3 linked regions of the Homo sapiens genome follow. The protein of the gene in region 3 purifies or fractionates together with the protein of the main gene of each other region. This does not show direct contact. Each region holds a gene or a part of one and is shown on either strand. Other genes may lie near its edges.

Region 1 (4,366 bases), on a different chromosome or scaffold from region 3:
CCTGTGCACACTGTGGGGGAAACCAAGGAACCACACAAGAACTTGCTCTCAAAGGGACTTACAAATCAAAGGCAACTTCCCCTACTCCTCAGCAGCCCCAGGCAATGGTGAGACCAAATGATCTCTCTAGAACCAGCCAGCACTATGTGCATGGAGAGCCAGCATGCTCCTCCACACCAGATTTGCTTAACTTTGTGATAAGATGTTGAGTGGACCGGCCAAGCTCATGAGGTCCCTTCCTGGGCCAGTGGGTCATCTGAGAATGCCCCTTCCCTTCCCTGCCCTCACCCCTCCGTCTCTAGCCTTGGGACATACACAGCTGGAATAAGATAAAAAGTAGACAGTAAGCCCACTGTGAACTCTAAAAGCCCACCTTTGCAGGAACTCCTGGAAAGAAGAGAAGAGGAGGTAATCAATGGCGCTGAAGTCCTCACTACTCTTGTTCAGGCGGAACTGGAGGAAGACCAGCTCCCGCTTTTTCACTTCCCGGGGCCCCTGGACAATCAGGGCAGATTTCTGCAGAGAGAAAAAGGACAGAGTCTCAGTCCTGGGAGAGTACACAGAGGCCTCTGGGTCTGAGGGCAGAAGTACTGACTGGAAAGCCCATAGCTCCTTGCCCAGTGGTCTCCAAAGGGACCACTAGCCAACAACAGGACTGGGCTGGGACTCATGCTCATTCCTGGGGAGTTTTCCCCATATGATGCCCAACCAGAGCTGAATGCAGCTCATCCTCTGTCCACTTTTCTCATTGGTTCTTTGAGTTATGGAAGCTCTTAATTTAGCAAGGATGATCACTTTCATCTGTTATGTGTGCCAATCTTTTCTTCCAGTCTGTCATTTTTCTTTTAACTTTGTTTCCAATGTCATTTGTCCTATGGAAACTTTAAATTTAACGTAGTAAAACCTTAAATCCTTTTCTTTACGGCTTTGGGTTTTGCTTGCTGAGGAAAGCCAAAATTATATCAATATTCTCCTCTATTTCTTTATAGCACTTTTTAATCTTTTTTACATTTAGATACTTTATATACCTGGCTTTAAGCTCTGTATATAGTGTGAAATAGGGCTCTAACTCCTACTTCCCAAACAATGCATAGAGACAGGTTTTGAAGCCTCTTCCCCTCCCTCCTTTATCCTATACTAAATTCCATGCAGAACCAATATCTATGTCTGCTTCTGGCCCTAGCAGAGCCCACACATTTGTCTGTCTCTGTCCAGTACTGTGCCACTTTGATTCCTGTGGTTTTTCCACTGTTCTGAGATCTGGGAAGGTGCTCTCCCTACTACTCTTCCCCATCCCCAAACTTGTCTTGGTTATTTTTGAACGTGTTCTAAGTATGCTTTAAGACTAGCTTGCTTAGTTCCACAAAAAAATTCACTGGGACTTTTAACTGTGATAGAAACTGAATTTATAGATTAATTTTAGAAAAAAATGTCTTTTACATCAACTTTTATAAATAAATGCTCTACAGAGATTTGAAAAAGAGTGAGTACACTGTCAGTTACAAAGTTTTGTGCCCCCACATGTATACACACACATACATACTCTAAATTTATTAACTGCACTATTCAATTCTTATCCTTTCTAGTTTTTGTCTATTTGATCTGTGAATTTCTGAGAGGGGTGTTTAAATCGTGCTCTAAAGTGATGGTATTTTTTACTTCTAACGGGTTTTGCTTAAAATATATAAATGTCATGCTGTTTTGTACATAAAGTTTTGGAACTGTTCAGTCGTCTTAGTGGAGAGTATGGAGTTGAACCTCTTATCAATATTAAACATCCTTCTTGCAAACTTTTGCACGTGGAATTCCACACTATTAATATTGTCACTTCTGGTTTTCGTTGCATCTTCTCAAGACAGCTTTGTCCATCTATTTATTTTTCAACCTTTCTGTACCATTTTGTTTTAAGTGTGCAACAGAAAGCACTGTCCCTGGTTTCTATTATCCATTTCTTCCTTTAGTACTAGAATGGCTTTCCCAACCCAGATTTCAGCAGAATCCACTCCCCCTGCTGGAGCCTCATCTCTGCCCTCAAATGTAGCCACGTGATAAAGTTCCTAATGTGCGAAAGAAAAGGGGACTCATTCAACTCCACCCCATTTCCTGAAAAGGGAACTGCTTGCCCTCCACCTTCCCAGGCCTGGGCATGTGCACAGACACACACACACACACTGCACACACACACACACACACACACACACACACACAGCCCACATGGACCAGAACAATGCCCAGGGGACAGCACAGTGACACACACACACACACACACACACACTGCCCACATGGACCAGAACAATGCCCAGGGGACAGCACAGTGACAAGACAAAAGTCATGGCTGGACTATCCTATGAGGCAGTACTGCCCACTACGCCACACGGCCTGCATGCCAGGACTGTTCTCAGAGAGAGAAGGAGGCTTCTCCCTCATCTCAGCCATTGTATTTGCAGGTTTTGTTTTTATTTGGTAGCTTAGCCTATACTCTGACTAATACACAATTTGTTAGCTGACACTGGAGTGTTCTTGTTTTTTTTTTTTGAGACGGTGTCTCGCTCTGTTGCCCAAGCTGGAGTGCACTGGCGTGATCTCGGCTCACTGCAAGCTCCGCCTCCCGGGTTCAGGCGATTCTCCTGTCTTGCCCTCCCAAGTAGCTGGGACTACAGGCACGTGCCACTACACACGCCTGATTTTTTTATTTTTATTTTTAGTAGAGACGGGGTTTCACCATGTTAGCCAGGATGGTCTCGATCTCCTGACCTCGTGATCCACCTGCCTCGGCCTCCCAAAGTGCTGGATTACAGGCATGAGCCACCACGCCCGGCTGGAGTGTTTTATGGTTGCAAAAAAAATCAAAATGAGGGAACAGCCAAACATTTGGGCAGTGGGAAAATGGCGGGCAGTAAGGAAATAGATAAGGATCCCGCAGGCTGGAAAGGTGGCAAACCTTATTGTGCCAGAGCAGAGCATTTGGTAAAAAATAACTACCATTAAATTGAGAGCATGAAAGAAAGCACCAGAAAATCAGCAAAATTCCGAAGATTTTACAAATACAACAGGATGAGACCCTCGACTGGGGTCACTTTCACATGAACTTGATTAGATGCGAACAGCCAGAAGCCTACACATTTCTGAAATCTCACTGCAAACATAGGCAGTGGCAGGAGGCAGGTAAGAAGCCGCCCTCCAAGTTTGCAATTGTTTAGCCCTAAAGCTGCTCACACAAGCAGGAAGTGAGTGGCACAAGCTGTGCAGCCACCAGGGAGGGCGTATTTTCTAATGTCCACTTCAGATATGGCCACAGAGCATTACCACCAAGGCAGAAGCTCCCAGGGGACGAGGCCAGAGCACACAGGAGTCTCTTTCTGAGGGCAGCAACAGGTTCAAACCAAGGAGCTTACTTCATGCCAAGAAGGCGTCTCACCGGTCCCACCCTGCAGGGTTCCACCACTGCTGCAGAGCAGAGCTGCGGGCCCTTCCCCTTCTTCCTTTTCCAAATGGGAGCTCTACTGCTCTCATCATATTCTTCCTCCACTGCTATATGCTGGTTTGGGTAGGAAACTTGGTGGATAGGGAGGAGATAACTTCTCTGTTAGTTTATAGCTTGTGGACTTCAAGAAATTGATGGAGGAGATGAACCAACACTCAGACTTGGGGGCAGTAGCTGCATTCAACTTCATTTCCATAAAAACAACTCTCTCTTTGTGCCCTTATTTCAAGGGTTTTTACACTCTTTAGTCGAATTATGTAACTATTGTAACAAGTGCAACTGGCCTACACAGGTTTGGAAATGACCCTCACTGACTCCTCCTAAGCATACACTTCAACTGGGGGAGGAGAGGAGGGCATCCAGAGAATAGGCACCTAGTGGGACGGAAGCAGCCACGAGTTTTCATTAGCGTGTTTTACAGAGAGATGAAGGGAGCTGGGAATCCAGACAAAGAGCTTCTATTATACATATAACTCCACATTGGAATTGTTTAAAAGTTGCTTTCCTTTTTGTTTTAATTAGCTTCTACTTCCCTATTCTAGAGTCCATTCTATTTGTTCATCTTGGTCCTTTTCTGTCATTGGTTTCATGCAAATGTCTGGTGACCATTAATTCTCCATTCTTATTTATGAATGAAGGATTAGGTTGACTAGTATAGGTCTGGGTTTTGGTTTCTTCCAAAGTAGTAAATTTCTGTTTCTCTAATAGGCCTCTCCCTTGCATGGGAAAGCTAAGTATGCTCTGTGGAAGCACACTGAGTTTTCCAGTGTGTTTTACTCTGGGAAGAGTCCTTTCCTTTAGTTCTCTCTCCTTTTCCATTGTAGAAGTCTGCTCTGTTTCCTATGCCTACACAAAGAATCATCTTCCCTTCGCTTCTGTAGA
Region 2 (4,366 bases), on a different chromosome or scaffold from region 3:
GCTGGCACCTGTAATCCCAACTACTTGGGAGGCTGAGGCATGAGAATTGCTTAAACCCAGGAGGTAGGGTTGCAGTGAGCTGAGATCGCGCCACTGCACTCCAGCCTCACAACAGAGTGAGGCTTTGTCTCAAAAAAAAAAAAAAAAAAAAAAAAAAAAGCCTTGATAAGCCAGCAAGAAGGTAAAAACCAAGACGAAGAGGAACTGGTGACTGGAAGCACTAAAGAAGGCTTTTCACCATGAGGGTATTTGCCCAAGCAGGTAAAAATCTAAGCTTAAGGTCCACAGCATTATTGGACAAAGGCCTAGTGAAGGTGGGATAATTAACAGAAGATTCCTCATAAAACCAAGACCCTAATATACTCTCAATGCATGGGTAGGCTAGAAATCCTCCCTAGGGGATTACAAAAATTACCCCAGTGAAAGCCCCCTGCCCTAGGGGCACAAAATAACACAAAAAGCCATAACCACAAACCAGTCCTCATGGGTTTATAGCCCAAATTCTATCAAATGGTTCCAAAGACCTTGGGTCAAGAATTTTAAGTGGTCTTAAATTAGAATTGATACCAAGCATCTGGCATATATAAACATCCAAAGAATAAGTTCATAATTTAAACCATAAAATACACACAAAAAAACAAAGCACCATCAGAAAGAACTAGCAGGAGCAGCAGAATCAGTCATGAGTTCATATCAGAATTGGGGCATCAAATAATTCTTGACCTGTTAAAAGAAATAACTGGGTGTGGTGGCTAACACCTATAATCCCAAGCACTTTGGCAAGGCGAGGCAGGGGGATGGCTTGAGGCCAGGAGTTCAAGACCAGCCTGGGCAACATAGAGAGATCCTGTCTACAAAAAAATTTAAAAATTAGCTGGGCATTGTGGCCTGTGCCTGTAGCCTTAGCTACTTGGAAGGTTGAGGTGGGAGGAATGCTTGAGCCCAGGAGCTCGAAGCTGCAGTGACCATGATCAAACTACTGCACTCCAGCTTGGGAACAGAACAAGACCCTGTCTGGAAAAAATAAAAATAATAATAATAATAATAATAATAATAATAATAATAAAGGAAAGAAAGAAGCTTGAACAGGGCTGGGTGCCATAGCTCACACCTGTAATTCCAACACTTTGGGAGGCTAAGACAAGAGGGCTGCTTGAGGCCAGGAGTTCAAGACCAGCCAAGGCAACATAGAGAGATCTCATTTGTATTTGTTTAAAAAAAAAAAAGTTAAAATATGCCAGGCGCAGTGGCTCACGCCTGTAATCTCAGCACTTTGGGAGACTGAGGTGGGCGGATCACCTGAGGTCAGGAGTTCAAGACCACCCTGACCAACCTGGTGAAACCCCATCTCTACTAAACATACAAAAATTAGCCGGGCGTGGTGGTGGGCGCCTGTAATCTCAGCTACTTGGGAGGCTGAAGCAGAAGAATGGCTTGAACTCAGGAGACGGAGGTTGCAGTGAGCCGAGATCATGCCACTGCACTCCAGCCTAGGCGACAGAGTGAGACTCTGTCTTTAAAAAATATTTTTAAAAAAGTTAAAATTTAAAATTCTGTAGGTGGGTTTCATAGTTTTATTCACATGTGATCTGCTTGTTTATGCTGAAAACCCAAATACAGCTAAGTTATTAGAAGCAGTAAGCAAAGCTGTTAGATAGAGACCTCCTAAATAAAGTACTGATTGTATTTCTTCACTGCAAAACAGACAGAAAAACATATTATTAAAAATATGTCATTTATTACAAAAAAATTAGTGAGGCATGGTGGTGTGTGCCTGTAATCTCAGCTACTCGGGTGGCTGAGGGAAGAGAATCACTTGAACCCAGGAGGCAGAGGTTGCAGTAAGCTGAGGTTGCGCCACTGCACTCCAGCCTGGGTGACAGAGCGGGACTCCTATCTCAAAAAACCAAAAAAATGTCATTTGTGATTCCATCGAGATGTGCCAAATTCAAAGAGAAGGAAAGTAGAACAGTGGTTGCCAGAAGCTTGAGGAAAGGGAGAACGGGGAGTTACGGTTTAGTGGGTAGAGAGTTTTCAAGTTTGGGATAATGGAAGAATTCTGGAGATGGACAGTGGTGATGGTTCCAAGAATGTGAATATACTTAATGCTACTGAACTGTACACCTAAAAGGGGTTAAAATAAATTTTATGCTATGTATATTTTACTGCAATAAAAAAATAAGCCATTTGCAACAGCATTTTAAAAAAGTGCCTATGAATAAATCTAACCAAAGATAGGCAGCCCTTTATGAAGCAAATTAGTAAAAATGTATTCAAAGACACTAAAGGACTTTAAAAAATATAAATACCAACTTCATGGACTGGAAGGTTCATAATAAAATGTCAACAGATTTGTGGATTCAATACAATTAATAACCAAAATTTAAAAAGAATTTTTTTGTGGGGCATGGTAAGCTGACTCAAATGTTGATGCAAGTTACAAAAAGGGCCAAGGAGAGTCAAGATGCTCCCAAGAAAAATGAGATAGAGGGACTTGTTTTATATATCAAGAGCTAAACTAATAAATAATAAGTAACACCATAACAAATAATAAACCTATAATAACTACAGTAAGATGGAATGGCACCAGGGTAGAGACAAACTGGCCCATGGAATAGAACGGAAAGACCAGAAACAGATGTTGAAATCTGTTTTACAACAGCAAGGTCACTAAAGAGCACTGAGAAAAAAAGGGAATGGACAATAAATGGTGCTGAACAGGTGATTATCTGCATGTGGGGAAAACAGAATTGGATCTCTCCCCATATCCTATACACACAAAAAATCAATTCCACATGGTTTAAAGACGGATTCAAAAGAACAATGAAAAATATCTCTAGAAGACAATATAGAATATTTTTATGAGTCTAAAGTAGAAAACAATTTCTTAAATCTTTCTCTTTCTCACACACACACGCGCACACACACACACACACACACACTCTCTCTCTCTCTCTCTCTCTCTCTCTCTCACTCTCCAAATCAAAAAGTAAGAGATAAGTCCAACTACGTTAAGACTTTTTCTTCATCTTTTGTTTTTGTTTTATTCTTTTGAGATAGAGTCTCACTCTGTCGCCGGGGCTGGAGTGCAATGGTGAGATCTTGGCTCACTGCAACCTCCGCCTCCTGGGTTCAAGCAATTCTCCTGCCTCAGCCTCCCAAGGAGTTGGGATCATAGGCGCCTGGCACCATGCCCAGCTAATTTTTGTATTTTTAGTAGAGACGGGGTTTCACCACGTTGGCCAGGCTGGTCTCGAACTCCGGGTGATCTGCCCGCCTGGGCCTCCCAAAGTGCTGGAATTACAACAGGCGTGAGCCACCACGCTCGGCCTTTTTCTTCGTCTTTTCACAGCCTACATTGATTGAAAATATAAGGTTCAGAAACTGGCGATATGTACAACATACATGACAGACAAAAGTTTGGTATTCAGAATGCATTATGAACTCTTACATATCAGTAAGTAAATGATGAATGCTTAGTAGAAAAATGGAGAAACCTGTCAAAGGGCACTCAAAGAACAACAAACATAAATGGCCAGTAAACATATGAAAAGATGCTCAATCTCATTAGTCATCAAAGAAGTGCATGATTAACATCCGTGAGCTAGCATTTTACATTTACCAAACCGGTAAGAAACTACAAGTTTCATGATATCAAGTGTTAGTGAAGATAAAGGGCAGCAGAAGTGCTTATACCCTGCTGGTAGGAGTGTAAATCAGCACAACCACTTTGAAAAATTTGTTCATATTTTTAGTCAAGTTAAACACATATACCTCCTATGATACCGTAATTTCACTCTTAAATAAATTCCCGGGGAGGGAATCTTTTGTCTGTGTGCACCTAGAGAATGTGGAAGAATGTTGACGGCAGTTTTTGTAACTGAATTTTAAAAAGGCTACTCAGGGGCTGGGCGCGGTGGCTCACGCCTGTAATCCCAGCACTTTGGGAGACCGAGGCGGGCGGATCACAAGGTCAGTAGATCGACACCATCCTGGCTAACACGGTGAAACCCCGTCTCTACTAAAAATACAAAAAAAAATTAGCCAGGCGTGGTGGCGGGCGCCTGTAGTCCCAGCTACTCAGGAAGCTGAGGCAGGAGAATGGCGTGAACCCAGGAGGCGGAGCTTGCAGTGAGCTGAGATCGCGCCACTGCACTCCAGCCTGGGCGAGAAAGTGCGAGACTCCGTCTCAAAAAAAAAAAAAAAAAGGCTATTCAGATTCAAAGGCTCAACAGTTCAATATGCACAGAATGAATTGGAAAAAGAATGAATCACAGCAACGGTAAGAACATCTGCCTCAGATGAGTGAAAGGAAATTTCAAAGAATACATACAGTATTGGCCGGGCGCGGTGGCTCACGCCTGTA
Region 3 (5,824 bases):
ACCTCCCACAAAGTTAAGAATGTTTTCTTGCTGGGCACGGTGGCTCACGCCTGTAATCCCAGCACTTTGGAAGGCCGAGATGGGTGGATCACCTGAGGTCGGGAGTTTGAGACCAGCCTGGCCAATATGGTGAAACCCCATCTCTACTAAAAAACACAAAAATCAGCTGGGTGTGGTGGCACGCACCTGTAATCCCAGCTACTCAAGAGGCTGAAGCAGGAGAACCGGCTTGAACCTGGGAGGTGGAGGTGGCAGTGAGCCAAGATGGGGCCACTGCGCTCCAGCCTGGGCAAGAAGAGCAAAACTCAGTCTCAAACAAACAAACAAACAAACAAACAAACAAAAAACTAGCTGGGCGTGGTGGTGCACACCTGTAACCCCAGCTACTCAGGAGGCTGAGGCAGAAGAATCGCTTGAACCCGGGAAGCAGAGGTTGCAGTGAGCTGAGATCACAACACTGCACTCCAGCCTGGGCTACAGAGCAAAACTCTGTCTCAAAAAATAATAATAATAATAATAAAATAAAGAAGCTGGGCACAGTGGCTTACGCCTATAATCCCAGCACTTTGGGAGGCCGAGGAGGGAGGATCACAAGGTCAGGAGATCAAGATCATCCTGGCTAACACAGTGAAACCCCATCTCTACTAAAAATACAAAAAATTAGCCGGGCGTTGTAGCGGGCACCTGTAATCACAGCTACGCGGAAGGCTGAGGCAGGAGAATGGCATGAACCCAGGAGGCGGAGCTTGCAGGGAGCCAAGATCGCGCCACTGCACTCCAGCCTGGGCAATAGAGTGAGACTCCATCTCAAAAAATAAATAAATAAAAAACAAAAAAATAAAATAAAATAAAACACACACACACACACACACACACACACACACACACACACACACAAACAAAGAGCTACTCCACGCTACGTATTTTGTGCTGCATTCTTTACATCCATCATCTCACTGAATCATTAGAATTTTGTGAGGTTGGCTGGGGTGGCTCATGCCTGTAATCCCAGCACTTTGGAAGGCTGAGGCGGGCGGATCACCTGAAGTCAGGACTTCCAGACTGGCCTGGTCAACATGGTGAAACCCCGTCTCTACTAAAAATACAAAAATTAGCCAGTGTGGTGGCACGTGCCTGTAATCCCAGCTACTTGGGAGGCTGAGGCAGGAGAATCGCCTGAATCCAGGAGGCAGAGGTTGCAGTGAGCCTAGATCGCGCCACTGCACTTCAGTCTGGGTGACAGAGCGAGACTCTGCCACAAAAAAAAAAAAAAAAAAAAAAAAGACAAACAAAAAAAAAGGATTATGTGAAGTTGATGCCACCCACCTTCCCCCCAGCCTCACCTCTGGTTTCCAATGAGGAAACTGAATCTCAGACAAGCTAAGTCAGGAGTCCAAAGTCACACAGCTGGTACTTGGTAGAGTCAGACTTTGTGCTCAGTACAATGCTTTTGCTAAATTTGACATGCAGCAGGAAGTAGCAAGCCCCAGCAGACCACAGAGTACTGGGCAGCTTTCCCCTGGACCTTGGGAGATACTCCCCTCCCTGCCAGGGTACCCCATTGCCCCTTCCCAAGGCCAGGAAATAAGTGGCTTGATCACACCTAGCCTGGACCCCAAGACCCGGCAGGGTCCTCCCCCACTTCCAGCTCCAAGCCCAAGGATGCCTTCAAGGTCTCCCGGGACCTCAAGCGGAAGGAACACACAAGCCAGGACAGACCCTGTCTCCCTGGGATGGCCGCCAAAGTCACTGGGCCAGCAGAAGAAACAGCTTCTCCCCAGTGAGTGGGAAGGACTGAGGAGCCTGTCAGTCTCGCTCTAGGGCTGGTGGGGGTGTGTGAGAGGGCAGGGCAGGCTAAGGAAGCTTCCAGGTTGTCAGGGGTAGAGACATCTGCCCAGGAGGCTGTGAATTGAGCTACGTGAGCTGCAGTGGTCAGGACCTAGGTTAATACTGTAAGCCACGTCCCCCTACCCTTCACCCCAACCCCAGGCTGGCTCAGGTCTCAGAAAGAGGGAAGACAAGAACATCAGAGGGCCAGCAGCTACTATTTCCCAAGCTCTTATTCCAGGCCAGATCCAGAACAGGCTCTCCACGACAGGCTTTGGGTCCAGTCCTCTCAGAACCCTCGCAATGGCCAATGTTTATCTCAAGGATGGGGAAACGCGGAGGCTCTGAGATGAGGCAGCCTGCCTGAGGTCACCGAGTACTAAGCGGCCAAGCTCTGGGGGATCTCAAGGCTGTGGCAGGGTTTCCCAGCTTCTGCCTGCTACAACTGCCACTGCTCCTTCCAGGCCACAACTGTAGGACTTCTGGGCCCCCAAGTGAGAAGCCCACATGGTGTTAAAGATGAGCCTGAACAAATAAACGCTACAGGGGTGACTGAGGCCCACTGTTTGCGGGAGAGTCCAGAGCAGCCCCTGCTGTCCCCACTGGGAGGCAGAGCCTGCAGGTGCGAGGTAACATCACCAGCCCCCAAGCCTGCTTCACTCCAGGGATGGATCCAAATCCAGTCAACCCACACTGTGTCCGTCCCCCTGGCACCCTGTCCGTCCTCCAGGGCCTAAGCTGAGACCCCTCCACCTCCTCTCCACAATGAAAAGCCCACGGCAAGGTCCCCTACCAAATGGACACTTCTACTGCTGTGTAGGGCCTGGCCCCACTTGGGCAGCCATCTCTTGTGCCCTACAATCTTAGGCGGACACCTCCTCATTCCACCGTCACCACAGCACTTACAGCACCCTCAGCCTGGGTGCCTAAGCATATCATCCTACGCGCCTCCTCCCCTGCGCTAGACCACCCCACTAATGACTCTGGCCTGTGCACTCACTCATTCCGTCTGGACCCCAACAACGTCCCCGACTCCCTTGAGCCACTCTGCCCAGTCTCCTATTCACCCCATGCCGGACCCCTCAATAGTCCCACCATGCCGGGCACCGGGCATCCCCGCGTTGGACCTCAGCAATATCCCCGTCTTCAGAAATTGCTCACTCCACCCCAGGCATCTTGGGCAGCCCCTTCTTCTCTTGCCCCCACCCCGGAATATCATTGAAACTCACCCAGGTACCCTCTGGCGCCGCTCACGGCCCGCACGCCTGCTCCTTCCATCCCGGGTGCTCTCCCCGCCTCGGATCGGGTACCTGCGCGCCTGCTCCAATCCCCGCCACGTTCCAGGCCCGGGCATCACCTCCCTGACCCAAGTACCTTCTCGTTCCGCTCCCAAGCAAGGCACCCTCTCGCACCGTCCCCGGCCCGGGTACCCACTCATTCCAACCCCGACACCTTCCTGGTCCTGTTGGGCCCGGACACCTGCGCCTACTCGGTCCTCCGCTCAAGTCCCGGCCCTGCCGCGCTGCCCGCCCGCCTTGGGGGCTCGGCCGGGGCCGATACTCACCCGGGATGCCATCGCTGCGGAAGGGCAGCGTCTCCTTCCCCGGCGGCTGCGCAACCAAACCGGCCGCCCGGGGGCGTGGCCTAGCGCCAAGCCCCCACCCTCTTCTGGCCAATGAGCATCGCTGAGTCTCTCAGGGCCGCCGCAGCCTCTGGCCAATTAGGCGGGTCATGTGACCAAGCTTATATTCCGCCTCTCCCGCCCTCTTCCCCTCCTCCTAGTGCGGTTGAAGCGCGAAAGTGGTCTCTTCTCTTCTACTATTGGTCATTCAGATTAGATCGACATGGGCGGCTGGGTGGGGCGGGGCCATTCTTAAAGGGGCTGAAGCGGAGCAGTCAGACCTCCAAGGGGCTTTCTTGGAGTACGCCAAAGCAGGCTGAGCCCTCGTATTAGGATCCTCTATTCTTGTTCCACACAAGGACAAATCCTTCCCACTCTCCAAGCGCCCATTTTCAAATACTACCGCCCCTGACTTCCCGCAGCATGCTCTTATACTGTCGCCACTCTCCCCCTTGTTCTGGAGTTGTTTGCAAAAGTGCCAGGTCTCGCCGCTAGACAGTGTCTCTCTGAGAGCTGGAGTCAAGGGGTCTTCAGTTCTGGCCACCTATCTGGGTCTTACACTAAATACCAGGATTGAGATCAGGCCGACCTGAGATAGAATCAAGTGTTGCCACTTCAGCTCTCTAGAGCTTACCCCTCTATGAAATAGGGATGAGGCCGGGCGCGGTGGCTCACGCCTGTAATCCTAGCAGTTTGGGAGGCCGAGGTGGGTGGATCACGAGGTCAGGAGTTCGAGACCAGCCTGGCCAACCTGGTGAAACCCTGTCTCCACTAAAGATTAAAAAAAAAAATTAGCCAAGCTTGGTAGCACACACCTGTAATCCCAGCTACTCAGGAGGCTGAGGCAGGAGAATCTCTTGAACCCGGGAGGCAGAGGTTGCAGTGAGCTGAGATCCACCCATTGCACTCCAACCTGGGCCAAAGGGCGAGACTCCGTCTCAAAAAGAAAAAAAGAAATAGGGATAAAATCTTCCCTTTCCCAAATCATAGGGCTTTGGTGAGGATGGAAAGAGGACGGTGTATCAGCCCTTCCATAACTGCGAAGAGCTGGGCACAACTACGTTTTAAAATTGTAATCGTCGGCCGGTAGCAGTGGCTCATGCCTCTATTCCCAGCACTTTGGGAGGCTGAGGTGAGTGGATCACATGAGGTCAGGAGTTCGAGACCAGCCTGGCCAAAATGGTGAAAACCGGTCTCTACTAAAAATAAAAAAGCTAGCTGGGCGTGGTGGCACACACCTATAATCCCAGCTACTTGGGAGGCTGAGGCAGGAGAATTGCTTGAGCCGGGAGGAGGAGATTGCAGTTAACCAAGATCACGCCACTGCACTCCAGCCTGGGCAACAGAGCCAGACTCCATCTCAAAAAAAAAAAAAAAAAAAAAGCCCGGGAGCAGTGGCTCACGCCTGTAATCCCAGCACTTTGAGAGGCCAAGGCAGGTGGATCATGAGGTCAGGAGATCGAGACAATCCTGCCCAACATGGTGAAACCCCATCTTTACTAAAAATATAAAAATTAGCCCAGCATTGTGGCGTGTGCCTGTAGTCCCAGCTATTCAGGAGGCTGAGGCAGCAGAATCGCTTGAAACTGGGAGGTGGAGGTTGCAGTGAGCCGAGATTGCGCCACTGCACTCCAACCTGGGTGACAGAGCAAGACTCCATTTCAAAAAAAAAAAAAAAGGAAAATTACAATTGTCGGTAAAGCCACATTCCTTCATTCATTCAACTAATTAAGTGTGCCAATCCTTTGGCTGGACATGGGAGCTCAGTGGTGGACAAGAGACAGGTATGTGGTGGCACCAGGGAGCTCATTGTCTGGGGAGCAGATACTTAATCACAATCCCCTGTGATGGTTACTCTAATGGGGGAATGTGGGATACCAAGGAGATACCTGGGCTTGCCTGGGGAGGTGAAGGGCTCCAGAAAGAAAAGGGGTCCAAGGCCGGATGTGGTGGCTCACGCCTGTAATCCCAGCACTTTGAGAGGCCGAGGCGGGCAGATCACCAGGTCAGGAGTTCGAGACCAGCCAGACCAACATGATGAAATTAGCCAGGGGTGGTGGCATGCGCCTGTAATCCCAGCTACTCAGGAGGCTGAGGCAGGAGAATCATCTCTTGAACCCGGGAGGCGGAGGTTGCAGTGAGCCGAGATGGCGCCACTGCATTCCGAGACTCCGTGGGGAGGGGAGGGAAGGGGAAGGCAAGGGAGGGGACGGGAGGGGAGGGTGGTCCAAACAGCGGATGCCCAGTGCCCGGCATGGTGGGACTGGTGAGAGGTCTGGCATGGGGTGAATAGGAGACTGGGCAGAGTGGCTAAAGGGAGTCGGGGATGTTGTTGGGGTCCAGGCGGAATGAGTGCACAGGCCAGAGTCATTAGTG

Evidence for each region.
Region 1: the proteins of MIGA2 (region 3) and PACC1 purify together in Homo sapiens (co-immunoprecipitation; one large-scale study listed by IntAct). This does not show direct contact.
Region 2: the proteins of MIGA2 (region 3) and KCMF1 purify together in Homo sapiens (affinity purification with mass spectrometry; one large-scale study listed by BioGRID and IntAct). This does not show direct contact.

The regions. Positions count from the first base shown.
Region 1 is NC_000001.11:212,379,522-212,383,887, forward strand, and holds part of PACC1 (proton-activated chloride channel), read right to left. Parts: intron 517-4,366; coding exon 374-516; intron 1-373. UniProt on the Homo sapiens protein: Chloride channel gated by pH that facilitates the entry of chloride ions into cells upon exposure to extracellular acidic pH. Involved in acidosis-induced cell death by mediating chloride influx and subsequent cell swelling.
Region 2 is NC_000002.12:85,023,160-85,027,525, reverse strand, and holds part of KCMF1 (E3 ubiquitin-protein ligase KCMF1), read right to left. Parts: intron 1-4,366. UniProt on the Homo sapiens protein: E3 ubiquitin-protein ligase which accepts ubiquitin from an E2 ubiquitin-conjugating enzyme and then transfers it to targeted substrates, promoting their degradation by the proteasome.
Region 3 is NC_000009.12:129,034,249-129,040,072, reverse strand, and holds the start of MIGA2 (mitoguardin 2), read right to left. Parts: upstream 3,448-5,824; 5' UTR 3,392-3,447; intron 3,140-3,391; exon of another isoform or gene 3,106-3,139; coding exon of another isoform or gene 3,057-3,105; intron 1-3,056. UniProt on the Homo sapiens protein: Regulator of mitochondrial fusion: acts by forming homo- and heterodimers at the mitochondrial outer membrane and facilitating the formation of PLD6/MitoPLD dimers. May act by regulating phospholipid metabolism via PLD6/MitoPLD.